Linked DNA regions of Homo sapiens: region 1 is linked to region 2. The links come from fine-mapping of genetic effects on gene expression. A gene starts in region 2. The other region holds a variant in brackets. All regions are shown on one strand. Distances are from middle to middle. Region 1 overlaps SP2 (Sp2 transcription factor). Region 2 holds the start of SCRN2 (secernin 2).

The links. PIP is the estimated chance that this variant, and not a neighbour inherited with it, causes the effect.
Region 1: its variant is the best candidate, but not a certain one, in a credible set for the expression of SCRN2 in amygdala (GTEx, PIP 0.54).

What each region holds. Positions count from the first base shown.
Region 1 is chr17:47,901,511-47,914,441 of GRCh38, reverse strand. The region is part of intron 1 of SP2 (Sp2 transcription factor); the gene reads right to left. All of the region lies in intron 2 of SP2-AS1 (SP2 antisense RNA 1), which reads left to right. Among named protein-coding and RNA genes, the nearest start is that of SP2, 12 kb to the right of the region's middle. RefSeq lists a silencer at 10,157-10,350 and enhancers at 11,838-12,341, 12,846-12,931. The variant T/A (reference allele first, on the strand shown) is at 9,448.
Region 2 is chr17:47,838,021-47,849,087 of GRCh38, reverse strand. It overlaps SCRN2 (secernin 2), which reads left to right and starts at 7,815. Exons shown (of 8, transcript NM_138355.4): 1 at 7,815-7,880; 2 at 8,245-8,418; 3 at 8,716-8,897; 4 at 9,445-9,644; 5 at 10,082-10,297; 6 at 10,392-10,557; 7 at 10,638-10,818. The coding sequence starts at 8,245. SP6 (Sp6 transcription factor) reads left to right here. Exons shown (of 2, transcript NM_001258248.2): 2 at 602-4,180. The coding sequence starts at 659. The coding sequence ends at 1,789. RefSeq lists enhancers at 1,363-1,971, 5,916-5,965, 7,788-8,343, 8,247-8,346.

The DNA.
Region 1 (12,931 bases), 64 kb before region 2:
CTTCACCACAAAGGCCGTTGTCCCCAGGCAGCATATACAGCACATGGGTCAATTCTTTTTTTTTTTTTTTGAGAAGGAGTTTCACTCTTGTTGCCCAGGCTGGAGTGCAATGGCACGATCCTGGCTCATTGCAACCTCCACCTCCCAGGTTCAAGTGATTCTCCTGTCTCAGCCTCCTGAGTAGCTAGGATTACAGGCATGTACCACCATGCCCAGCTAATTTTTGTATTTTTAGTAGAGACAGGGTTTCACCATGTTGGTCAGGCTGTTCTCAAACTCCTGACCTCAGGTGATCCACCTGCCTCAGTCTCCCAAAGTGTTGGGATTACAGGCGTGAGCCACCATCCCTGGCCTCATGGGTCAATTCTTTACTTGAATTTACGCTTTTACATAGTACAATAGGCACGGCCCCACAGGCATCAACCAAGACTCAGTAGAGCTAATGACTAACTGGATATAACAAGGAGAATGAAAACAGAGTAAATTCTATTTTTGTTTAAATGTGTATATATTTCTATATATGAATATAATCAAATAGGAAAAAGTCTTAAGCCATTATCTCCTAGCGGTTGAGTTTTGTTTGACTTAAACTTATTTTGCACCTTGGTTTTCTGTACTTTTTCATTTTCCCATGATAAATATATTCTACTGTACTTTTTTTCTTAAATAAAGAAAAATAAGGTTGAGGAAGTAATGAAGGGACTCTCTACTGTGCACTTAAGTCATCCAAAAGAGGCTAGGTACAGTAGCTCATGCATGTAATCCTAACACTTTGGGAAGCCGAGGTGGGAAGATCGCTTGAACCCAGGAGTTCAAGACCAGCCTAAGCAACACAGTTAGACCCCGTCCCTAATAAAAATTTTTTAAAAAGAAAGAAACACAGTATCAGGAAAACGAAAGTCATGAGAATTTTAGGAGAAAGAATCTATACCATCTTAAAGTGCATAAATCACTAAGGAAAAGAACACCAGGCAGAGTCAGACTTCAATCCTGGACCTCTGGAAAGCAGATTTCAGTAAGTACAGAAATAAGAGGGGTATTACTTTAAAGACTAAAAGAGACAAAAAGGCTCAGGATGCATTCTGCTTGGAAGGCTGAGATGGAAGGATCACTTGAGGCCAGGAATTTGAGGCTGCAGTGCCCTATTATCACACCTGTGAATAGCCAAAACACTCCTGCCTGGGCAACATAGCAAGACCCCATCTCTTAAAAAAAAAACAAACAAAAAGGCGCAGGGGTTGAGTCCTTGTAAGGAATTTGGCAAAAAGAGGATAGATATTGGGCTGGGTGTGGTGGTTCACGCCTGTAATCCTAGCACTTTGGGAGGCTGAGGCAGGCAGATTGCCTGAGCTCAGGAGTTAGAGACCAGCCTGGGCAACATGGTGAAACCCCATCTCTACTAAAAAGACAAAAAATTAGCAGGGCGTGGTGGCAGGTGCCCGTAATCCCAGCTACACAGGAGGCTGAGGCAGGAGAATCATTTGAACCCAGGAGGTGGAGGTTGCAGTGAGCTGAGATCGTACCACTGCACTCCAGCCTGGGCAAGAGTGAGACTGTGTCTCAAAAACAAACAAACAAACAAACAAACAAAAGGATACATATTGGGAAAGCAGAACCGTTCACATTTTGGCTGGCCTCAGGCTTCTCTGTTTGGAAGAACAATTCTTAAATGGGGAAAAGTAAAGAAAAGGTGAAGGCACGGGATGCAGTGACTCGTGCCTATAATTCCAACACTTCGGGAAGGTGAAGTGGGAGGATTGCTTGAGGCCAGGAATTTGAGACCAGCCTGGGCAACATAGGGAGACCCCATCTGTACAAAAAATTTAAAAATTAGCTGGACATGGTGGCACATGCCTATGGTCCCAGTTACTTGGAAGGCTGAGGTGGGAGGATCGCTTGAACCTGAGAGGTCAAGGCTACAGTGAGTCGTGATCACACCACTGCACTCCAGCCTGGGTGATGGAGCAAGATCCCATCTCCATAAAAAAAAAAAAAAAAAGGTGAAGTGGAAACTGAAGCCCTGGATAGGTGATGAGCTGGTAAGAAAGCACACCAGTGCCTTAAATGGTTACCAGGCCTGAAGTCCACACAAACTATACTCCAGAGGAGGGGAGACTTTGCAGACACACCTGCAAATGTGTATGGAGCTGGAGGGCAGCTCTGGGCAAAATTATATATGCAGATCCCGTAATATTACAGGCACTGATTCTTGGCAAAATCCTAGGACAAATGATTGAATAGTACTGTTAACTACTGAGGAAAGGAAGGAGTGACCACAAGGAATAGCATTATAATATAGAAGAACAGGTCATGCTGAACAAATCTGTTTCTTTTTTGTAGGGTTTTGGATGGATACATCAAGAGCATGGTATACACCAGGTATTTTATTTCAACAGGCATCTGGCTGACATTTTCATAATATTCTTGTGAACAAACAAGGAGGAAACTTGGGCAATATGATAGTCTAGTTTGTCTGGGGCTAAGCTGAGCATGCCTCCACCTAAGTGCTGAGAAGTCTGCTGCTGCAAAGTGTCTCGAACTGGGGTGGGTCTCAGGACCAGGGTTCACAGGCATCTCCGCAGAGGCCTTTTTATTCTTTTCTTGTGTGTTTTCACTGTGATTTTTTTTTTTTTTTTTGAGACGGAGTCTCGCTCTGTCGCCCAGGTTGGAGTGCGGTGACACGATCTCTGCTCACTGCAAGCTCCGCCTCCCGGGTTCACGCCATTCTCCTGCCTCAGCCTCCCAAGTAGTGGGACTACAGATGCCCGCCACCACGCCCGGCTAATTTTTTGTATTTTTAGTAAGAGAGGGGGTTTCATGTTAGCCAGAATGGTCTCGAGCTCCTGACCTCGTGATCCGCCTGCCTTGGCCTCCCAAAGTGCTGGGATTACAGGCGTGAGCCACTGTGCCCGGCCAATCTTTTTTTTTTTTTTTTGAGATGTAGTCTCACTCTGTTGCCCAGGCTGGGGTGCATGATCTTGGTTCACTGCAACCTCTGCCTCCCAAGTAGCTGGGATTACAGGCACCCACCACTACATCCGGCTAATTTTTTTTGTATTTTTAGTAGAGACGGGGTTTTGCCTTGTTAACCAGGCTGGTCTCAAACTCCTGACCTCAAGTGATCCACCCACCTTGGCCTCCCAAAGCGCTGGGATTACAGGCATGAATCACCATGACCAGCCAAAACAAAGATTTATTTGTTTGTTTATTTATTTAGAAACAAGGTCTTGCTCTATCACCCTGGCTGGAGAGCAGTGGCGTGATCTCGGCTCACCGCAACCTCTGCCTCCTGGGCTCATGTGATCCTCCCACCTCAGCCCCCCAAGTAGCTGGGACCACTGGTGCACACCACCACACCCGGCTAATTTTTATGTATTTTCTAGAGACGGGGTTTCGCCATGTTACCCTGCCTTTTCTCGAACTCCTGGGCTCAAGCAATCCCATTGCTTCCACCTCCAAAAGTGCTGGGATTACAGGCATGAACCACCACACCCAGCCCAATCATCTTTTTAAAAATGAACATATACCATAGATCACCAGGTAACTGCTGCATAACCAAGTCCTGCACATTTCAGGGCCTGTGTGTGTGTTTACAAGTGCACTGTGTGGGCTAATTAGGACAACTTCATTCTGCACATTTAGTTCACGATACATCTGTGCAAAGTGAAAGATGACATAACTTTAGAAGCAGTGGAAAGACTGTATTACTCTGACTGACACGCTACAGGATGGGTGTGCAGAACTCAAGGAGCCTAAGTGTCAAGTCTGTGCCATGCTTACAAGGAAAAGCAATGATTTGGGTTCAGTCAAACATCACCCTCTCAGAATGATGCTGATAATTTGAATTTTACTGGCTTTTTTTGTAGTTACATGTGTGAACTTTATAGGAGCTAGATCAATGAGCTGACACACAGATTCATGTTCATATAAAATTAAGTTGTAATATTATAATGAAAATAATCTAAGCCAACCCAAACCATTTTTCCTTTAGAGTGGTAGTGTTCAAACTATCAGACCACGAACCACAGTTACAGAAACAATTTGCATCAAGACCCACCATATGCATACATACACCACACATTTCTGTCCCATGCTCATGCAATGAAAGTTTCCTGAAACAAAACTCCCTTATTACATGTGACGGACCGTGATATTTTTCTATTCTGTTTTGTTTTTTTAAATGCTGGCTGTGACCCACTAAATTGGTTTTGTGCCCTACAGGCTGGAAAACTTAGGCTTTAGAATGGTATTCACCACCCAAGTTTGGCAAAGATCTAGACGACAAGTAAAACTTGCAGATGTTGGCCAGGCGTGGTGGCTCACGCCTGTAATCCCAGCACTTTGGGAGGTTGAGGCAGGTGTATCAGGAGTTCATACCAGCCTGGCCAACATGGTGAAATCCTGTCTCTACTAAAAATACAAAAAAATTAGCCGGGTGTGGTGGCGCATGCCTGTACTCCCAGCTACTTGGGAGGCTGAAGCAGGAGAATTGTTTGAACTTTGGAGGCAGAGCTTGCAGTGAGCCGAGATGGTGCCACTGCACTCCAGCCTGGGTAACAGAGCAAGACTCGGTATCAAAAAACAAACAAAAAAACCTTGCAGATGTCACAAAAGTGAGAAGGATTGGAAACACAATGGGTATTAGTATTAGAGTTCAAGGACATCTTAAAAAACTGGTAGGTACAATGTTTAAGAACATCAGGCTCCATACCTAAATGAGATTCTGACTGTGTGGTTCATTAGTGGGATGGTCCCTCTTAGCCTCCTCCTAGTGCCCTCTGTAAAACAAAGGTAATGTCATCCTTCTAGGATTTCTGTGAGGCTCTAATAATTTATATCACTGCATCGAGGGTTTAAAGGCATATATGGCTTTAAAGTTTAATAAGTCCTGGCCAGGTGCAGTGGCTCAAGCCTGTAATCCCAGCACTTTGGAAGGGCAATGTGAGCAGATCACTTGAGCTCAGGTGTTTGAGCCCAGCCTGGGCAACATGGTGAAACCTTGTCTGTATATTAAAAAAAATAAGTCCTCCACTTAGGTTAAAAAACCAATCACATGCATATAGGGCAGAAAGAGCCTAATAGTGCCATGTGGAAAAGCCCCAGAGGTTTTGACTTTAAGCTGAATGGGGGCCAGCACAATCTAGATATGGCTGCCAAAAAGGCTACTGCAATTTTGGATTGCATTTCTAAAAGTTCAGTCATAGAACAAAAAAATAATATCCTCCTGTAGTTTACACACTTGGGCCACATCTGGAGCATCAGGTTCTGTTCTGAGGGACATTTTAAAAGGGGGATTTTCAGCTGGAGCTTGTTCAGAAGACAGCAGCAATGGTTGTGGTCAGGGTGCCAGAGTGGGGACATGGGTTCAAAGGGTAGAACCAAGACTCCTGTGTGGACATTTTGAGGCAGATTTTAGTTAACACAAGAGAGAACTTTGAAAAGATGAAAATCAGTTGCCTTCTGAGGTACTATGTTCTCCCTTCTCTGGAATCACTTAACCAGAGGCAGGACATGTGTCCCTGCTGGAGTCAGGATGTTGAGATGGGGTGGGAAGTTGGACCAAATGATCTTTAAGATTTTTATTCATGGCCGGGCGCGGTGGATCACACCTATAATCCCAGCACTTTGGGAGGCCGAGGCGGGCAGATCACTTGAGCTCAGGAATTCGAGACCAGCCTGGCCAACATGGGGAAACCCCATCTCTACTAAAACTACAAAAATTAGCTGGGTGTGGTGGTGCGCACCTGTAATCCCAACTACTCAGGAGGCTGAGGCAGGAGAATCGCTTGAACCCGGGAGGCGGATTTTGCAATGAGCCAAGATCGTGCCACTGTACTCCAGCCTGGGCGACAAGAGCAAGACTCCATCTCAAAAAAAAAAGATTTTTATTCACTGGAAGAAAGTGCAGTGATTTAAAATAAGTTAAAAAAAAGATTTTTATACTTCTCAGACCATGTTGCTGATAAAAATACAAGATGAGTTTGTTGCTGGCAGAACTGCAAAGGAAGGCAATGGCTCTCCCAGGAGGCTCCCCCAGGGCTCAGGTTTGCTTAGCTAAAATTAGTGAATGACTCTCTTAGACATCCTCTATTATAAAACAAGAGACATAGGATCCGCGCAGAGTGTAAATGAAATGAGACGAAATAAAAACTGGCCTAGCGTTTCTTCATCATCTCCCTCTCTGCAGTCCTTATTACCCTGGACTCAAACTGTTTGGACACTGGGCTGGGTTCTGAGTGACTCTTCAGTTAGGAGGTTAAAGCAGAATCTACTGAAGCAAGCTGCAGACTGCTAGTGCTGGACGTTGCACCATTTCAGCTTGGTTTCATTTTCCTCCCCAGCTGGTTCCTGAAATACTCCTATAGATCTCAAACCAATGTTTGCAAGTATCTTTCCTAGCGTCACTCAGAGCTTTATGGCCACAGGCTGCAGACCTGGGCAACCAAAAGAGAGACCGATCTCCCTGCCACTACAGAATTAACCACGAAAAGGAAAAGAGAGGCATTTCCCACTGATGTTTGGAAATGAAAAGTGGTTAAGAAGAGGTAGCATAGATACCTAACTGTAAGACTATGATCAAAGGCACTTTAGAACCTCATTAATTTGGAACTTTATATTTAAAATATACAATTTGGACATAAATTATGCTTAACTTTTCTTTCATACTATTTAAAGCGAGCCTAAATGGTGTTCGAAGATTGCAAAGGGACCCTTAGTCAGAATAATTGTTTTATACCACTTCCGCCATTTTAATAGTGCCACTTGGTTTTAACAGTAGTTTACATCCGGTCACTGAAACCAACACTTAACAACATAGGTAAGTGGGATTAGTGCATATTCTTGAAAGAAAAAGCTGCATTGCTTTCAAAGTTATATCATTCAGACTTTTCATTAAGTTAGGTTGGCTAAAACTTTCCCAACAGTCCCCAAGCTGGTGAAGTTTTACAATTATTTACTATACAAGCAATAGTACCTCTCTTAGGTTCCATGGAAAACTCCAGGGGCATCAAACAAAGTTTGAAGGCAGCATGGCATAGGGATGGGGTTGCAGGTGCCCGATGGGACCACACACAACATTCCTTTCCCATATTGGAAACCAATTTAATTCCAAAACCAGCAGAAAAGCATCCCCTGAGTTTCTAGACTCTTGATGTACTACTGATCATCCGCCTCTACCTCCTGTCCCCTCCAGCACAGCCTTCTCTTCCTACCCCTTTGGCCAAACTTGGTAGAAAAACTGCTGGCACCCTGCCGTCCCCTCCCTCCTTCCCTACTCACTCATTTCCCGGCAGCATTAGGACATCCACCCTGGCACTGCGCTCATGCTGCACCTGCCCAGGTCACCAGCGACCTCCTTGCTGCTCAATCCAATAGCCCCTCTGACCAGTGCCTCTTCCTCAAAATTCCCATGGATTTTCTCCCACCTCTCCTGCCACCTCTTCCCCTTGTGGGCTCCTCTTCCTTTGCCACCCTTAAATACTGATGTTCCCCAACATCTGTCCTTTCTCCTCACCCAGCACCCTTTCCCTGGGTGACCATGCCTACTCGCACGGCTTTACATACCTTCCACAGGCTGCCAACTCATAGGCCTGTGTCTGGCCCAGATCTCTGCTCCACGTGTTAGACCTGTACATCCAGCCCTCTGTGGGTCTTCCATTAGGGCTGGCCACAGACACCTGGGGCACTGAGCGACAGCTTTGCCCATTCTTTGTCCAGCCTTCTCACCCTCAGCCACCACAGGCCTTCTTCCAGATCCTTGAAAAACTTCAGTGTCTGCAGCTGTCTTTCCTTGCTTACAGCTCTTTCTGTTCTCTTCACTAGCTAAGACCTCACCCTTCAGGTCTCTGGCTGTTTGACTTTCCCAGCATAATTTAAGAGCCATTATGTAACAGGCATGCCATTTCCTCAGAGAGGCCTTTCTGGACCCCTGAGATGAGGCTAACTCCTTTGGGAACACTCACCACTCATTAACTAATCATGAGCCCAATGTATGCGAGGGCTCCCCAGGGTGGGCCATGTCTGTTTACACCACTGAACTGCAGACACCAAGGCCTGGCACATGGCTCACGGACACCTTCAGTGCCTATGGGCTGTATGAATATCCTGGGTTAAAGCAGCCTCTCTTCTGGTATCTCCAATCAGGACAAAACCTGAGTATCCCCCTCACTGCCAACCAATCATCAAGTCCTCATGATTCCACCTCATAGACAAATCTCCCTATAGTGTACCCAGGCTCCCCATCCTCATCACCATGATCCACCTGAGATACTGCCTACGGCCTCTAAAACTGCTTCCTGGCCTCTGGCCTCCCCCTTAGTCAGCCTCCACAATTTGGTTAGAAGGCTCTTTTTAAAGTGCAAATCCCATCCAGCTACTCTCCTAATTAACCCCCTCAATTGTTCCCTGATGCTCTTGTGATAAACTTATAAAGGCCAGAACAACCTGTCCCTCCCTGGTCCTCCCTCCTGACCTCTTTCCCTTCCAACTCTCCCAACACACACTTCAGTTTTTCATTTCTGGAATTAAAACACGCCACCCTGTCTCACTTGGAGCCTGAAGCACACTCTCTCCCATTTGCCCGGCCAGCTCCTGTCCTTTAGAGCTCATTTATACTCTCACTCAGCGAAAGCCTTTCCTGACCTCCTCCCACCTCAAATCTGGGGCAGGTGACCCTGCTACCTGCCAGTGCATACTCCAGGCACCCTTCGGCACTGTCCCATCAACACAGAGCTGGGAGTGTGTCCCTGTCCCACGGTCTTTCTAGGCCTGACTTGGGGAGAGCACGTAACAGGAAGAGAGACCTCTGAGCCCTGGCCACCAGGCTGCAGGCTGTTCGACTGTTCCTTTCACTGAGAATGCTACTCTTGAGACCCAGCAAATGAGAAAACGCGCCTACAGAAATACCACAACAGTAGGCTTTAGGAAGCTTTTTCTTCTGGAGAGAACTAGGCTCCATCTCCACAACCCAGGCCTTGGGGGTAACTCGGCTTTTTTTGCCTGTGGGTTCCTGCCATCGTGGGTCTGGCTTTCTTGGCTTTTTGCTATGGTATTTCCCCTGGAGGAATTTCACACTGTGCAAACAGTCTTTCTCTTGGCTATTTTGGTCAGCTCAGCTGGGCCGTAAGCCAACAAAGCAGTTTCTAAGCCCAGGCTTTTCCAGTTGCCTAGCCTGGAAGAATTCAGAGCTGGTGAGGGAAAAGCATGCCCTGGCTGGTTTTAGAGAACAAAGTTGGACCTCAAAGAAAGCTCACAAATGGGGTATGAGAATCCATTTGGATGAAGAAAGCAGCAACCTTGGTAGTGAAAGACTCCAAATTGTGCTGAATATTTCAATGAGAGGCAAACCTCAGCAATCATAATAACTATTATAAGGTGGGCACGGTGGCTCATGCCTGTAATACCAGCACTTTGGGAGGCCGAGACAGGAGGATCACTTGAGGCCAGGGG[T/A]TCAAGACTAGCCTGGGCAATACAGCAAGATGCCATCTCTACAAAAAATGTTTACAAACTAGCTGGGTGTGGTGGTGTGTGCCTGCAGTCCCAGCTCCTTAGGAGGCCAAGGCGAGAGGATTGCTTGAGTCCAGGAAGTCGAGGCTGCAGTGAGCCATGATTGCACCACTGTGCTCTGGCCTGAATGACAGAGTGAGACCCTGTCTTTAAAAAATAATAATAAAAATTTTAAATAAACAAATAAATTAAAACCATGGTAAAAGAGCCCATTAACAGTAAAACAAATTTCAATGGCTTTCATTTCAATGAGAACAACTCTGGGCCGTGGCTTGCTAATGCCACAGGCCGAAGTAAGCAAGAAGGTGAGTAAGGAATGGAGATCTTGTCTCCACATTAACCCTTTACTGAGCCTCCCATCTCCCCCCACTCCGCCATCTCAGACCCCCAGCCTCAGGCAATGACCCTTAGGTATGTCTACAATTTCATCAAGAAGTTAAAATTTCCCTCATCAGCTAAGATCCATTATGTCTCCCCTTCTCTTCAAGCAAAACTCCTTGCAGGAGTTACCTATACTTACTGTCCTTAATTTCTCTCCCGCTAGCTTTTCTTAAACCTGCTCCAACCAGGCTGCACCCTCCTCATGCATGCCACGAAAACTGTTCACACCACCAGACACCTCCATGTTGCTAAAAACCTAATGGCTACTTCTACTTCTTTTTTTTTTTTTTTTTTGGGACAGAGTCTCACTGTCACCCAGGCTGGAGTGCAGTGCCACAATCTCAGCTCACTGCAAGCTCCGCCTCCCGGGTTCACGCCATTCTCCTACCTCAGCCTCCCGAGTAGCTGGGACTACAGGTGCCCGCCACCACACCTGGCTAATTTATTTTTGTATTTTTAGTAGAGACAGGGTTTCACTGTGTTAGCCAGGATGGTCTCGATCTCCTGACCTCGTGATCCGCCAGTCTCAGCCTCCCAAAGTGCTAGGATTACAGGCATGAGCCACTGCACCTGGCCTACTTCTTTTTTTTTTTTGAGACAAAGTCTCGCTCTGTTGCCAGGCTGGAGTGCAGTGGCACAATCTCAGCTCACTGCAACCTCCGTCTCCCGGGTTCAAGTGATTCCCCTGCCTTAGCCTCCTGAGTAGCTGGGAATACAGGCGTGTGCCACCACGCCCGACTGATTTTTTGTATTTTAGTAGAGACAGACAGGGTTTCACCATGTTGGCCAGGATGGTCTCAATCTCCTGACTTCGTGATCCGACCACCTCGGCCTCCCAAAGTGCTGGGATTACAGGCGTGAGCCACCGCGCCGGCCATGGCTACTTCTTAAACCACGTCATCCGTGTTGCTCTGACAGTTGATTGCTCTTCCTTTTGGTCTTGGCTCGCTGCAACCTCCGCCCCCCGGTTCAAGTGATTCTGCTGCCTCAGCCTCCCAGGTAGCTGGGATTACACGGGCCTGACACCACGCCCGGCTAATTTTTTGTATTTTTAATAGAGTTGGGGTTTCACCATGTTCGCCAGGCTGGTCTCGAACTCCTAACCTCAAGTGATCTGCCCGCCTCGGCCTCCCAAAGTGCTGGGATTACAGGCGTGAGCCACCGCGCCTGGCCTCTTCTTCCTTGAAACACTTTCTTTACTTGGCCTCTAGGACACACTTGCTAGTCTCTGGCTAACTTCTCCCATATCTCCTTTGCTGGTTCTTCCTCTCCTCTCAAATTCTAAATGATTGGGTTGCCCCAGGACTCTGTCTCAGGACCTTTCTTCTGTCTACACCTGTTTCCTAGCTGATTTTGTCTAGTCTCGTGGGTTTAGAAACCAGTAAGATACAGATTCTATATAATTTTAACTCTCACATTTCTATCTCGACTGGTATATCCAACTGCCTACTGATAGCTCCACTTGGATGTATTAATAGGCATCGTAAATCTAACTAGCCCCAGCTGGGCGCTGTGGCTCACGCCTGTAATCCCAGCACTTTGGGCGGCCGAGGCAGGTGGATCACCTGAGGTCAGGAGTTGGAGACCAGCCTGGCCAACATGGCGAAACCTCGTCTCTACTAAAAATACAAAAATTAGCCGGGCGTGGTGGTGCCCGCCTGTAATCCCAGCTCCTTGGGAGGCTGAGGAAGGAGAATCGCTTGAACCCGGGAGGTGGAGGTTGCAGTGAGCCAAGATTGTGCCACTGCACTCCAGCCTGCGTGACAGGAGCAAAACAACATCTCAAAAAACAAAACAAAACAAAACAAAAATCTAACTAGCCCCAAACAGTGCTCCCGATATTGTCCTAATCCTGTGACTCCTTCAAAATTCGCCACTGCAGTGAATGAATAGTAACTTCATCTTTCCAGCTCCTCAGCCTTAAAACCTTGGGAGTTATCCTTATCTTTTTTCCACACCCTACACTTGACAGCAAACACTCTATCTTCAAAATATATGCCCAATCTGACTGCTTCTACCACCTCCTCTGTCATCACCTAGGTCCAGGTTTCTATCATGTCTCCCACGGATTAACCTCCTAGCTGTGCTTCTGACCTTGACCCCATCAGTCTATTCTCAACACATCCAGAGTAAGACCCATCACACTTAAATGAAACCATGTTATTTCTCTGCTCAGAGGCCCCCAATACCATCCCATCTCCCACTCAAAGTAAAAGCCAAAATCTCCATTGTGACACAAAAGGCCCCTGTGTGACCTAACCTCTTTCACCTGCCCTGTCACTCTCCCTCTCTCACTGCTTTAGCCATGCTGGCTCCCTGCTGTTCCTGAACATACCAAGTATGGCCCCTGCTGAGGGTCTTTGCATTGCTCTTCTCTCTGCTGAGTTCTCACCCTCCTCCCCTCACCCCAGATAGAAAAAGGCTCAATCTCCTCCCCACTCCTTCAGGGTTTTACTCGGATGTCACCTTATCATTGAGACCTTCCCTGATCACCCTATGTAAATTGCCACCCCCCTTTTTTTACCTTATCCTCATTTTGCCTCCTTAGCACTTCTCACTGTCTAACAAATATCTATTAGTTATTAATTGTCTCCCACTAAGATGTAAGCTTCCTAAAGGCAGGGACTTCTCTGCCTTACTCACTGATGTATCCCAGTCCCTGGCACATGGTAGGTGCTTAATAATCTATATTTGTTGAATAAGTGAATGAATAAATCCTGGAGGCTTTAGAGCAGGAGGGCCTAAAGCGAGTTTAGGAACCAAAGGAGAAAAGCTGCAGATTTGCATATCCTGGCACTAGGTCAGGATCCACTCCACAGCTGGGTTTAGCTGACCCAGACCCTGGTGGAACCCTCAACCCCACCAGTCACCTCACATGTGGGCCAGTGCAGTCCAGTCCTGCTCCTGGCCAAAAACTTCAAAGCGCACGCCTCTCATCACCACACACCAGGTACTACTGCATTTCAATGCTTCTCTCAACTGATATGCATTATTAATGCTTCTCTCCATTGACATGCATTGGCAGAGCCGGGATAGCACCACTGCA
Region 2 (11,067 bases):
GTGACCAGGCCAGGCGGGGAGCAGCGTAGACGGTGAAATGCTTTTCATTACTGAACATGCTTTGGGAATGGCATGAGAACTCTTTCAAAGACTCAGGACCCGTTTGAGGCTTTATGAGGGGCAGGTCACCTGAAGCTTTGGGTTTCAGAAATAGACCATCCCCTCTCCCATCTGTATCCTGAGTTAAACTGGGGAAGCTGAGATGTGTCTAGATCCTCCATTTGGGCTGACAGCAGGTCTGCAGGGGGAAAATGCCACTGCCCCTTGTGTTGGCCTGGGCAGCTGGGGTGGGGATGGTTCTAGCACTGTGCTGTAGGTGTATCTGACCTACCATCCTGGGAGTGGCCCAACTCTAGGGATGAGCTGGGTCATACGGCAGGGATCACCCAGAGGAAGGTAGACCTCCATCATCCTCTGTGCTTGGATGAGAACCTCACATCTTGGACCCTTCCTCGCACTCCCGAATTCTCTAAACTCATCTCTAGTCCTCGTTCAGAGGTGCATCCTTCTTTTACACCTGGGGCCAGAGAGGAGGACCTGGGTTAGGAGGGAAAGTGAGCTGGTTATTTCCCTTACTTTTCTGCTTCTTCGCCTCCTTTAGGTCCCGTCTGAGGTGCCCCTGACCGTCCCTGCCCTCACCCCACCCCGGATCCCGGCAATGCTAACCGCTGTCTGCGGCTCTCTGGGCAGCCAGCACACGGAAGCGCCGCACGCCTCCCCGCCGCGCCTCGACCTGCAGCCTCTCCAAACTTACCAGGGCCACACGAGCCCTGAGGCCGGGGACTACCCCTCCCCGCTGCAGCCTGGAGAGCTGCAGAGCCTCCCGCTGGGCCCGGAGGTGGACTTCTCGCAGGGCTATGAGCTGCCAGGGGCCTCCTCGCGGGTAACCTGCGAGGACCTGGAAAGCGACAGTCCCTTGGCCCCGGGCCCCTTTTCCAAGCTCCTGCAGCCGGACATGTCACACCATTATGAATCGTGGTTCAGGCCGACTCACCCAGGCGCGGAGGATGGCTCGTGGTGGGACCTTCATCCGGGCACCAGCTGGATGGACCTCCCCCACACTCAGGGCGCGCTGACCTCACCTGGCCACCCGGGGGCGCTTCAGGCGGGCTTGGGGGGCTACGTCGGAGACCACCAGCTTTGTGCCCCGCCACCCCACCCGCATGCGCACCACCTCCTTCCAGCTGCCGGAGGGCAGCATCTCCTAGGGCCGCCCGACGGGGCTAAGGCCTTGGAAGTAGCCGCCCCGGAGTCTCAAGGGCTGGATTCCAGCCTGGACGGGGCGGCGCGTCCCAAAGGCTCCCGGCGGTCGGTGCCCCGCAGCTCAGGCCAGACCGTCTGTCGCTGCCCCAACTGTCTGGAGGCGGAGCGACTGGGGGCTCCATGTGGGCCCGATGGGGGCAAGAAGAAGCATTTGCACAACTGCCACATCCCGGGCTGCGGGAAAGCCTACGCCAAGACGTCGCACCTGAAGGCGCACCTGCGCTGGCACAGCGGCGACCGTCCCTTCGTGTGCAACTGGCTCTTCTGCGGCAAGCGCTTCACGCGCTCGGACGAGCTGCAGCGCCACCTCCAGACCCACACCGGCACCAAGAAGTTCCCCTGTGCAGTCTGCAGCCGCGTCTTCATGCGCAGCGACCACCTGGCCAAGCACATGAAAACCCACGAGGGCGCCAAGGAGGAGGCGGCTGGGGCGGCCTCGGGAGAGGGCAAGGCCGGCGGCGCAGTGGAGCCCCCCGGGGGCAAAGGCAAACGCGAGGCCGAGGGCAGCGTGGCTCCCTCCAACTGAGCTCCTCAGTGCCGCCTCCCTGCGGGTATCCCGGGGGGCACTGGATGCGAGCCCCCAGGTCTGACGTCCTTGGGGGTGGCTTGAGGAAGAGGGGAAGGTGCGTATTTATTCAGGGAGGAGGAAAAGTGGTGCAGGGACAGGGAGATGGGGCGCTAGGGGTTCTTAGTCTCTGGGGCTACTAGGCAGGATGAATTTGACTGGGTCGGTAGGAGCTGCGCAATGCCCCTCTGTTCTCCCCTGCCTCACAGTTTCCCTCGCCCCTGGGCTGGGGGGTTGGGGTGGGACACCCGTACCGCGGCTGGCTGGCGGGGACAGGCTAGAGGAGACAGCAAGTCCCAGTCCCCGGAGCAGAGAGAAGTGGGGCCGGCCCGGGGCGCTGGTGGTGGCTGTCTGGACACGTCCTTAGCGCCTGGGAACCAGGACATAAAAGCGCCTCCGGAGCCGCCCTGCGGCGGGGTCCCTTTCATCCCACTTAAAGTGCTTCTGCCCCTAGGGTTTCCGGAGGGAGAGCCGAGATGGGATGGGGGAGCCTGGGGGTCCCCCTTGGCAGGGGTGTCTCTTTCTGGTTTGGAGGGTTGTTGCTGTAAAAATAACTCCTTTGATGAGCTTCCTTATTAACCCTTTCAGACCCAGTCTGTTGGAGCCATGAAGGAAGAGGGAAAGAGGGCTGCCATTCCTGACAGCCTCCCAGCCAGGGCTGGCGATAAAGGACCGAGATAGATGGAGGGGGCGAGTAGGGAAGTCCTCTTCTAAAATGAGAGATAGGGATTTGGTGGGGTATGGAAGGAACTAACCCCTTCCCTCTCCACCTCTGATTCAGCCCTTAATTCTTGGTCTATGATAAATAAAGTTCAGTAGTCTCACATTCCCCATCTATTACCCTAGGTGTGTTTTCAAGGCAGCCAGCGGTAGAATCCATGTAGTTCCCACCAGTTGCCTTCCCCTCAGGGATGGAAGGAAGAGGGTTTCTTGGGCTGGTTGAGGGCAGATTGGGGGTGTCTCATCAGAGGGACCTCCACTGGTTCCCACTCAGAGTGGAGGCCTGCAGCCTACCTGACCATCTCTTTAGCTGTCACCAAGAAAATAAACCCCACTGTCTCTCTAGCTTGGCCCTTGTCTTTCCCTTGCCCCTGCCATAGCATGTTCATTAGGGGATTCCTTCCTCCCCCTCATCTCACAGGGGAAGGGAGAGGAAAGAGTTGTTCTCCCACTGGAAGGGGTTCTGCCTTCTGAGGTGACATCCAGGAAGCTGTCCCCATTCCCTTCTCCTTTAGATGCTAGAAACACATTTTGATTCTGATCATGGGGTGGGGGAGAGAGGAAAGGAGGGAGGGGAGAAGCCCAGCAGAAGCTGAGCCAGGCAGAGGGGAAAGAAGCTGATATGAGGAAGGGTCTGACAGGCCACAGCCCTTGCAGCCGGAGGGCTTTCCCACACTCAAGAGAGGGGCCTTACAGTCCCTCTGACACCCCTCCCCCTTCCCCTCGCTCCCTTTCTTCACCCGGAGCCCTCTGCAGAGATTAGCTGTGTATTGATTTTTAAGTTATAAGCAAAGGGTATTTTATTTAATATTAGGTTATGTGTGTGCATGTTGTGTGTACCTGTGTGCATGTATGTGTGTTTCTCTACTGAGCCTGGGGTCTCTAGCCAGGGAGACCCCATCTTATTCACCATGTCCAAGATCCTGGGATCTGGGCCCAGCATCTCTTCCTCCTTTGTAGATGCTGGAGCCCAGCCAAGGTCTGGGAGCTATATGGGAAGTGGGGGCTGGGATCTGGGTGGGAATATGTGTTTGTATACAAAGGGGCCCTCCTTAAAAGGGACAGGATGACCTTCCCGAGGAACTCATTGGCCTGGGGTAGTTTAAGAAGTAATGTTCTTTCTTTCTTTCTCTTTTCCCTACCTCCTGCTAACCCAACCAGAGATCCCCTTCCTTGCTGAGAGGGTTGGGGGCAGGAGGAGATTTGGCAGTGCCTGCAGGTTGCCTGGCCAGGTGGAGAGGGGGAAAGAGGAAGGGCACCGTGGGTGTAAGATGCCTTTCTCCTCCACCCATCGAAACCAGCCACCCCTTCCCTGTGCCACCAAGACAGCCTTTTCCAGTGGCCATCCTAAGGGGAACTCCCAAATGGGTGTTGCTGGTGGACACAGATGCTCCCCCCAATGGAAGCCCCAAGCTCTGAGGTATGCGGGTAGAGGCTTTGGATAGGTTTTCTTCTGCTCCCCTCTTTTATAGATCTAGGCTGCTTGGCTGCCTGTCTTTCTAGGCAGTCCCCCTAGAGGAAAAATGTAGGAATTTATTTTTTCTTTAACTGCTGTGAACTCACTTTGAGGGGGTAGGAGGAGGGAGAAACAGCCTGTGTTTTTTATGCAATAAAGTCATCAACTACATCATGCTTCCTTTGTGTTCCAGCTCTGTTTCCTTTTTGACTCAGTGTCCCTCAGCAGTGAGGACCAGGTCTGGGCCACAGAGTGGGGTGGATGCTTCCCAGTGATCCTGCAGCCCCTTGGAAAGCCTCATGTCTATTGAGTTGGGTTGGAGCTGGGGTCTGATCCTGCCCCAGAGGTGGCTGGTACAGAAGGAGGGAGGTTCTTCCTCTGGGTTGGTACCCGGGCTGTCCCTCCCTGGTCTCATACCTGTGGTTATGAGAAGTTTCTAGATATCTCTTTCCTCTTCCACATACAAGCCCCTTCTTTCCCTTCCCCTGCTAAGAACACTGGTTCCCTCTTTCCCAGGCACTGGCTCCCTCACTCCATCCCCATAGAGGGTGCATGTCAGTCCATCCCCTGCCTGTGACTGAGCTGGGGGTGATTGGCAGTGATTACTTCACCCAGGATGATCCTTATCAGGGACAAGGCGATGAAAGGCAGCCGAGCTATCTGATGGGCTCCTGCCCAGCTGGAAAGTATGAGGGAAAGGCTCCTACTGTAGCTCACAGCTAGAGACCCACCATGGTTACACAACCACAAGGCACACAAACATACCCGCACTGGACCCACGTGCACCCGCCCCCAGAGATATGCAGAAATATCTATCTGTACACATCTTCCCAGGCCTCCCAGTGCTTGATACAAAGTTGGTGCCTAATTCACATCAAATGAGTAGAAAGCCTCATGATTCCAGAGCCCCAAAGCCAGGAAGGTTGACAGAAGATAGGTTTTGGGCTCCAAGGGGGCTGGGGGGCGGGGGTTACTATGTTCTTTCACCTTCTCATTCTACCTTTTTGCCAAAAGTATTATTTTCCCCTAGTGGGATTTCTAGATCCACCACTCTAACCCTAACCCAATTTCTCGAAGCCAAATCTGGTACTCAGGCTGGCCCATCCCATAACTTAATTTGGGATCCTGGGGTCACAACCTTTATGGCTACCTTAGGATAGGGGCATCAGAATGAATGATTTAGGGGTTGTAGAGGAAACCAGACTGGTTTGGGGCCAATTGTTTTGTTTCCACCTGCTGCTAGATTTAGAAGGCTGGGAGGAGGAAGGACAGGTGTGTTTTCCTAAGACCTTATGCCAGCCCCACTCCTCCAGGTGCCTCTTTTGTCTTCCTGGTTCTAGGGGAGTTAGACCCCAGGAACTTGGTGAGTCCCCTCCTCCTTTACCCCCATCGCTGCCCCCAGGGACAGGAGGGCAGCTGTGCGGCCGGCTGGGCCTGTCTGGGCAGGGCTGGGGCCACCCCTCCTCCCCATGCAGCTCCTCCCGCTGACCTGCATTCTTAGCAGGGGCCTTTGGTGGGGCTCTGACACTTGCTTCCTTGCTGGAAATGCTGCCTGGCTGGCCTGCCCCCCATCCCCCCCACGACGGAACCCAAAGCCACCTCTGACCCCCCTCAGATGGGGTGCCTGGCAGGAGGATCATGGATGGCCCAGGAAAGGGTTAGGGAAATCAGAACATCTGGGCTGGCTCTCTGGGTTCCTCTCCTGGGAAGTGGAAGTAGAATCTACTCCTAACCTCTAGGGTGGGTGAATGAAATAAGAAATGAGAAAGTGACAGAGAAGAAGACAGCCTGGAAACTGCAACCTGGGGGTGCGCTGTGGCCTCTCTCTGCCTCTCCTCCTGCCTGTTTCCGCCCCACAGTGGGAAGCCGGGAAACTGCAGGAGATGAACCCGCCTTCCTGCAAGCTGCTTCAGGTGCCCAGATTTCTCAGCACGCAGCTTCGATGTTTGCTTCTGGAATGACATTAATTGGCAACCTCACAATCCCTCCCCGACACTGTATCAGAAACAGCCTTCACCTTCCCATTAATCCTAGCATGACTGACCGCCAGCACCCTAGCACAGTAGGCTTGAAAGAAGGCCAAACTCCACTAAAACACTGTTAGAATTGTTTTCTTTCTTTCTTTCTTTCTTTTTTTTTTTTTTGAGACGGAGTTTTGCTCTTGTTGCCCAGGCTGGAGTGCAATGGCGCGATCTCAGCTCACCGCAACCTCCGCCTCCCAGGTTCAATCGATTCTCCTGCCTCAGTCTTCCCAAGTAGCTGGGATTGCAGGCATGTGCCACCACGCCTGGCTAATTTTGTATTTTTAGTACAGATGGGGTTTCTCCACGTGAGCCAGGCTGGTCTTGAACTCCCAACCTCAGGGGATCCGCCCACCTCAGCCTCCCAAAGTGCTAGGATTACAGGCATGAGCCACCACACCCGGCCCACTGTTAGAATTGTTAAGCAAATACAGTAAAGTCAGAGGATACAAGGTCAATGTACAAAAGTCAATAGTGTTCCTATACACTAATAACAAACTATACAAAAAAGAAATCAAGAAAATAGTCCCATTTACAATAGCTACCAAAATAATAAAATATTTAGGAATAAATTTAACCAAAGAGGTGAAAGATCTGTACTCTGAAAATAAGATATTGATGAAAGAAACTGAAGAAGACACAAAGACATGGAAAGATATTTCATGCTCACGGATTGGAAGAATTACTATTGCTAAAATGTGCATACTACTCAAAGCCATCTATAGATTCAGTGCAACCCCTAGAAGCAGATAACCTGCAGCATCTCCCCTCTCTCCATTCTGGAGGGCTCCACAGAGCAAAAGGGTGTAAGATGCATTTGTCTTAATGATGGCTATGGAGAGATGGTTTGTAGAGAAAAATGAACTGAAAATCAAAACATTTGGGATCAGAGTGTACCTCCACATGACTGTGTGTCACCTTTGGCCAAGACTTCTTTGTGGTTTCAGTTTCACTACAGGTAAAGGCACCAAATCTTTGAACTAGAAAGTTCTAAATTTCCCTTTAAAGCGATCTTCCTATGGGTTTGAGCACTATCAGACAGATAGGTCCTCTGGGATCAGATGGGTTTTGTGCACACTTTCCCTTATTTATTTATTTTAAGAGACAGGGTCTTGCTCTGTCACCGCGGCTGGAGTACCGCGGTGTGATCTTGGCTCACTGCAGCCTCAATCTCTCTGGCTCAAGAGATCCTCCCACCTCAGCCTTCAGAGCAGCTGGGACTAGAGGCACGCACCACCACGCCCAGCTAATTTTAAAATATTTTCTGTAGAGGCGAGGTCTTGCTGTGTTACCCAGGCTGGTGTTGAACTCCTGGGTTCAAGTGATCCTCCCACCACCGCCTCCCAGAGTGCTGGGATTACAGGTGCGAGCCCCCCGCACCCAGCCTCCACCACTCTCGTATTCTGTATCTTATTCCCCTAGGCGCCTCCAGCCTGGGATTGCGCCTCTGGGATTCAAACCAGGACTCAAGTATCTGAGGTTCTTCCTTAATCTCCAGATGTCCCAGCAGTCCCCTTTCTCTGACAAAGTCTCCCTTTTCACGCGGGATCCTTTCCACCCCCAGCTCCAGCTCCCCGCAGTGACTCCGTGGGGTTAGCAGCCTTTGTCAGGCCTCAAATGGGCGCCTGGGTAGGACAGGGAGCCAGGTGGGACTCGCAAGGCCGCTCTGCTCCGGGAAGTGGTGCAGGCGCGCGCCCTGGTGGAAAACGGCGGAGCTGCAGGCTCCGTTCCGGCTCCGACCCCGAGGCCGAAGGCCTTCCAGGTCACCTGAGAGTCTCCGCCCAATGGGGCGGCCCTGGCCAGAAGCGGAGGAGGTGGCACCCGGGACCGAGCTGGGGTCTTGGAGGAAGAGAGGGTGAGGGGAATACAGTACTGGGGGTGAGAGAAGGGTTGGACAGAAGAGGGTCGGGTATCTGGGCATGCGCAGGGCCGCAGGACTCTTGGTGGGGTAGCGAGGGGGACGGTCCCACGACTGCTCCGAAGGGCCGGGACTCCCAGTGGGGGCGGGACCCCCGGAGTGCCCGCCTGCGGACTCCCAAGCCTGGAGCCTGGGGAGAGGGTGGGCACCTCCGTTCCCGCACACCCGTCCATGGTGTGTGCGCCGAGCGTCCAGGAGCCACGGCGGTGTCTTCCTTGCGCGTCTTTTACACGTGTGGGGGTAGGCTGCTCCTCGGGGCTGAGCCGTGGCCAGGGTTATGGAGAGGCCCGCCTCTCCCCAGATGGCGTCGTCGAGCCCTGACTCCCCATGTTCCTGCGACTGCTTTGTCTCCGTGCCCCCGGCCTCAGCCATCCCGGCTGTGATCTTTGCCAAGAACTCGGACCGACCCCGGGACGAGGTGCAGGAGGTGGTGTTTGTCCCCGCAGGCACTCACACTCCTGGGAGCCGGCTCCAGGTGGGTTAGACTTTATGGGGTGCTGGGAGGTGTGGCAGATCTCTGCATTCTTTTAAGACCTTCTTCCCTGCTCCCCACACCTGGGAGGCTGCCAGAAGTAGTGGAAGAGCATGAGCTTTAGGTCTACCAACCTGGACCTGAGCTCATTATGTAGCCTCAGTCTACCTCAGTTTCCTCTTCTGTAAAATGGGAATGAGACCTTCCTCAAAGGGATCTATAAGGTAATTGGCAGAGTGCCACACTCGAGGGGCCGCCCCTCTATGAGTGGACGCTTCCTTTCTCCTCCCTCACCTCCAGTGCACCTACATTGAAGTGGAACAGGTGTCGAAGACGCACGCTGTGATTCTGAGCCGTCCTTCTTGGCTATGGGGGGCTGAGATGGGCGCCAACGAGCATGGTGTCTGCATTGGCAACGAGGCTGTGTGGACGAAGGAGCCAGTTGGGGAGGGGGAAGCCCTGCTGGGCATGGACCTACTCAGGTGCAGACCCTGCCCTTCCTCATCTGCCTGACACACCAGAAATCTAGGGGCTGAGTTTTGACCTGGGCCCATCCATCCCTCCCCCAGCCTGGTTCACAGGGGCCTCCTCCTCTCTGCAGACTTTGCCCTTGTGCCTTCGTGAAGAAGGCTGCAGCAGCAGCCACCTTTGGGCCTCTCCTGGCCCAGAAATAGAGCAGTGGTTATTTATTTATTTTCAGTTGAAATCTTACATAGAGTCCCAATTTATAAAACCAGTAATAGTGGATGGAGCAGCTCTGGGTGGAGAGAGGTTAGGGGCTCAGGACACTTCTCTCTCTGAAACTGTGTTTCAGGCCTTTTCATGGAACCCTCAAAGCATAGCACATGGAACCAGAGCATTGAAAGCCACTGGCATAATTGCATTTGATACGATCAGTGCCAGCAGATTTGCTGTGTGACTTGGGCCTATCACCAAACCTCTCCGGGCCTCTTCTGTCCCCTGGAGCTTCTGCCACCAGCCATTGATCCCTCTGTCACCCTTCTGTCCCTTGGCCCTCTCTTTTGCCAGGCTGGCTTTGGAACGGAGCAGCTCTGCCCAGGAGGCCTTGCATGTGATCACAGGGTTACTGGAGCACTATGGGCAGGGGGGCAACTGCCTGGAGGATGCTGCGCCATTCTCCTACCATAGCACCTTCCTGCTGGCTGACCGCACTGAGGCGTGGGTGCTGGAGACAGCTGGGAGGCTCTGGGCTGCACAGAGGATCCAGGGTGAGGTGTTCCCTTTCTCCCAGCTTTGGGAAGTGGGAGAGATGGTAGGGGCAGGGAGGGGCCCGATCCAGGTGCAAGCCTGTCAGGACATCCAGGGAGATGGGAGATGAGCCCACTTGGGAATTCTCCTCCCCTTCACTTGGTTAAGTCTTCCGTGTGCTACAGCCTGTTGCTTCCTCTGGGAAGCCTTCCTGGACTTCCCTGGGTGGTCAGGTTTCCTGCTTATATGCAAGCAGGTACTTCTTTTTCATCGCATTCAACACAGTTGCATGCTTACATTTATCTCTGTGATTATTTTGTCTGCCTCCCCCACCAAAACGTAGGCTCCATGAGGGTAGGTAGTTCTCTTCTCCACCATGTTCTCAGCACCTCGCCCAGTGCCTGGCATAGAATAGATGCTCAATGGTAAATGAACCACTCCCCGATCTCCTCCACAGAGGGGGCCCGCAACATCTCCAACCAGCTGAGCATTGGCACGGACATCTCGGCCCAACACCCGGAGCTGCGGACTCATGCCCAGGCCAAGGGCTGGTGGGATGGGCAGGGTGCCTTTGACTTTGCTCAGATCTTCTCCCTGACCCAGCAGCCTGTGCGCATGGAGGCTGCCAAGGCCCGCTTCCAGGCAGGGCGGGAGCTGCTGCGGCAACGGCAAGGTTAGTGAACGGTGGAGGGGGCTGGGGGCCAGGAGGGCCACAGCAGTGCCAGCCACTCTCCCCTCCCACAGCTTCCCCCTCTACTCCTTGGCAGGGGGCATCACGGCAGAGGTGATGATGGGCATCCTCAGAGACAAGGAGAGTGGTATCTGTATGGACTCGGGAGGCTTTCGCACCACGGCCAGCATGGTGTCTGTCCTGCCCCAGGATCCCACGCAGCCCTGCGTGCACTTTCTTACCGCCACGCCAGACCCATCCAGGTGGGAAGAATGAGGGTGGGGAAGGCTGGGGAGAAGAGAGGATCTGATATATCTCCGTGCTTCCATCTGTGCCCCTCTAGGTCTGTGTTCAAACCTTTCATCTTCGGGATGGGGGTGGCCCAGGCCCCCCAGGTGCTGTCCCCCACTTTTGGAGCACAAGACCCTGTTCGGACCCTGCCCCGATTCCAGACTCAGGTAGATCGTCGGCATACCCTCTACCGTGGACACCAGGCAGCCCTGGGGCTGATGGAGAGAGATCAGGTATCCCCCAGGGAGTAGGGGCTACCTTGAGGGGATGATAGACCTCCCCCACTCCCAGTGGGACTCTGGAAATATGAAGGAACTAGGGAGTGGAAGAGATTTCAGAGCTGGGGAGAGGAGTTCCTCCCTTCAAAGCCAGCAACTGCCTTTGGGGAATGTCGGGGGGTATCTCCTTTCTCCTGCTTGTGTGAGGTGGTACACAGTCCCCCCTTCACCTGGCGGGAAGCCTGTCCCGGACAGACTCATCTC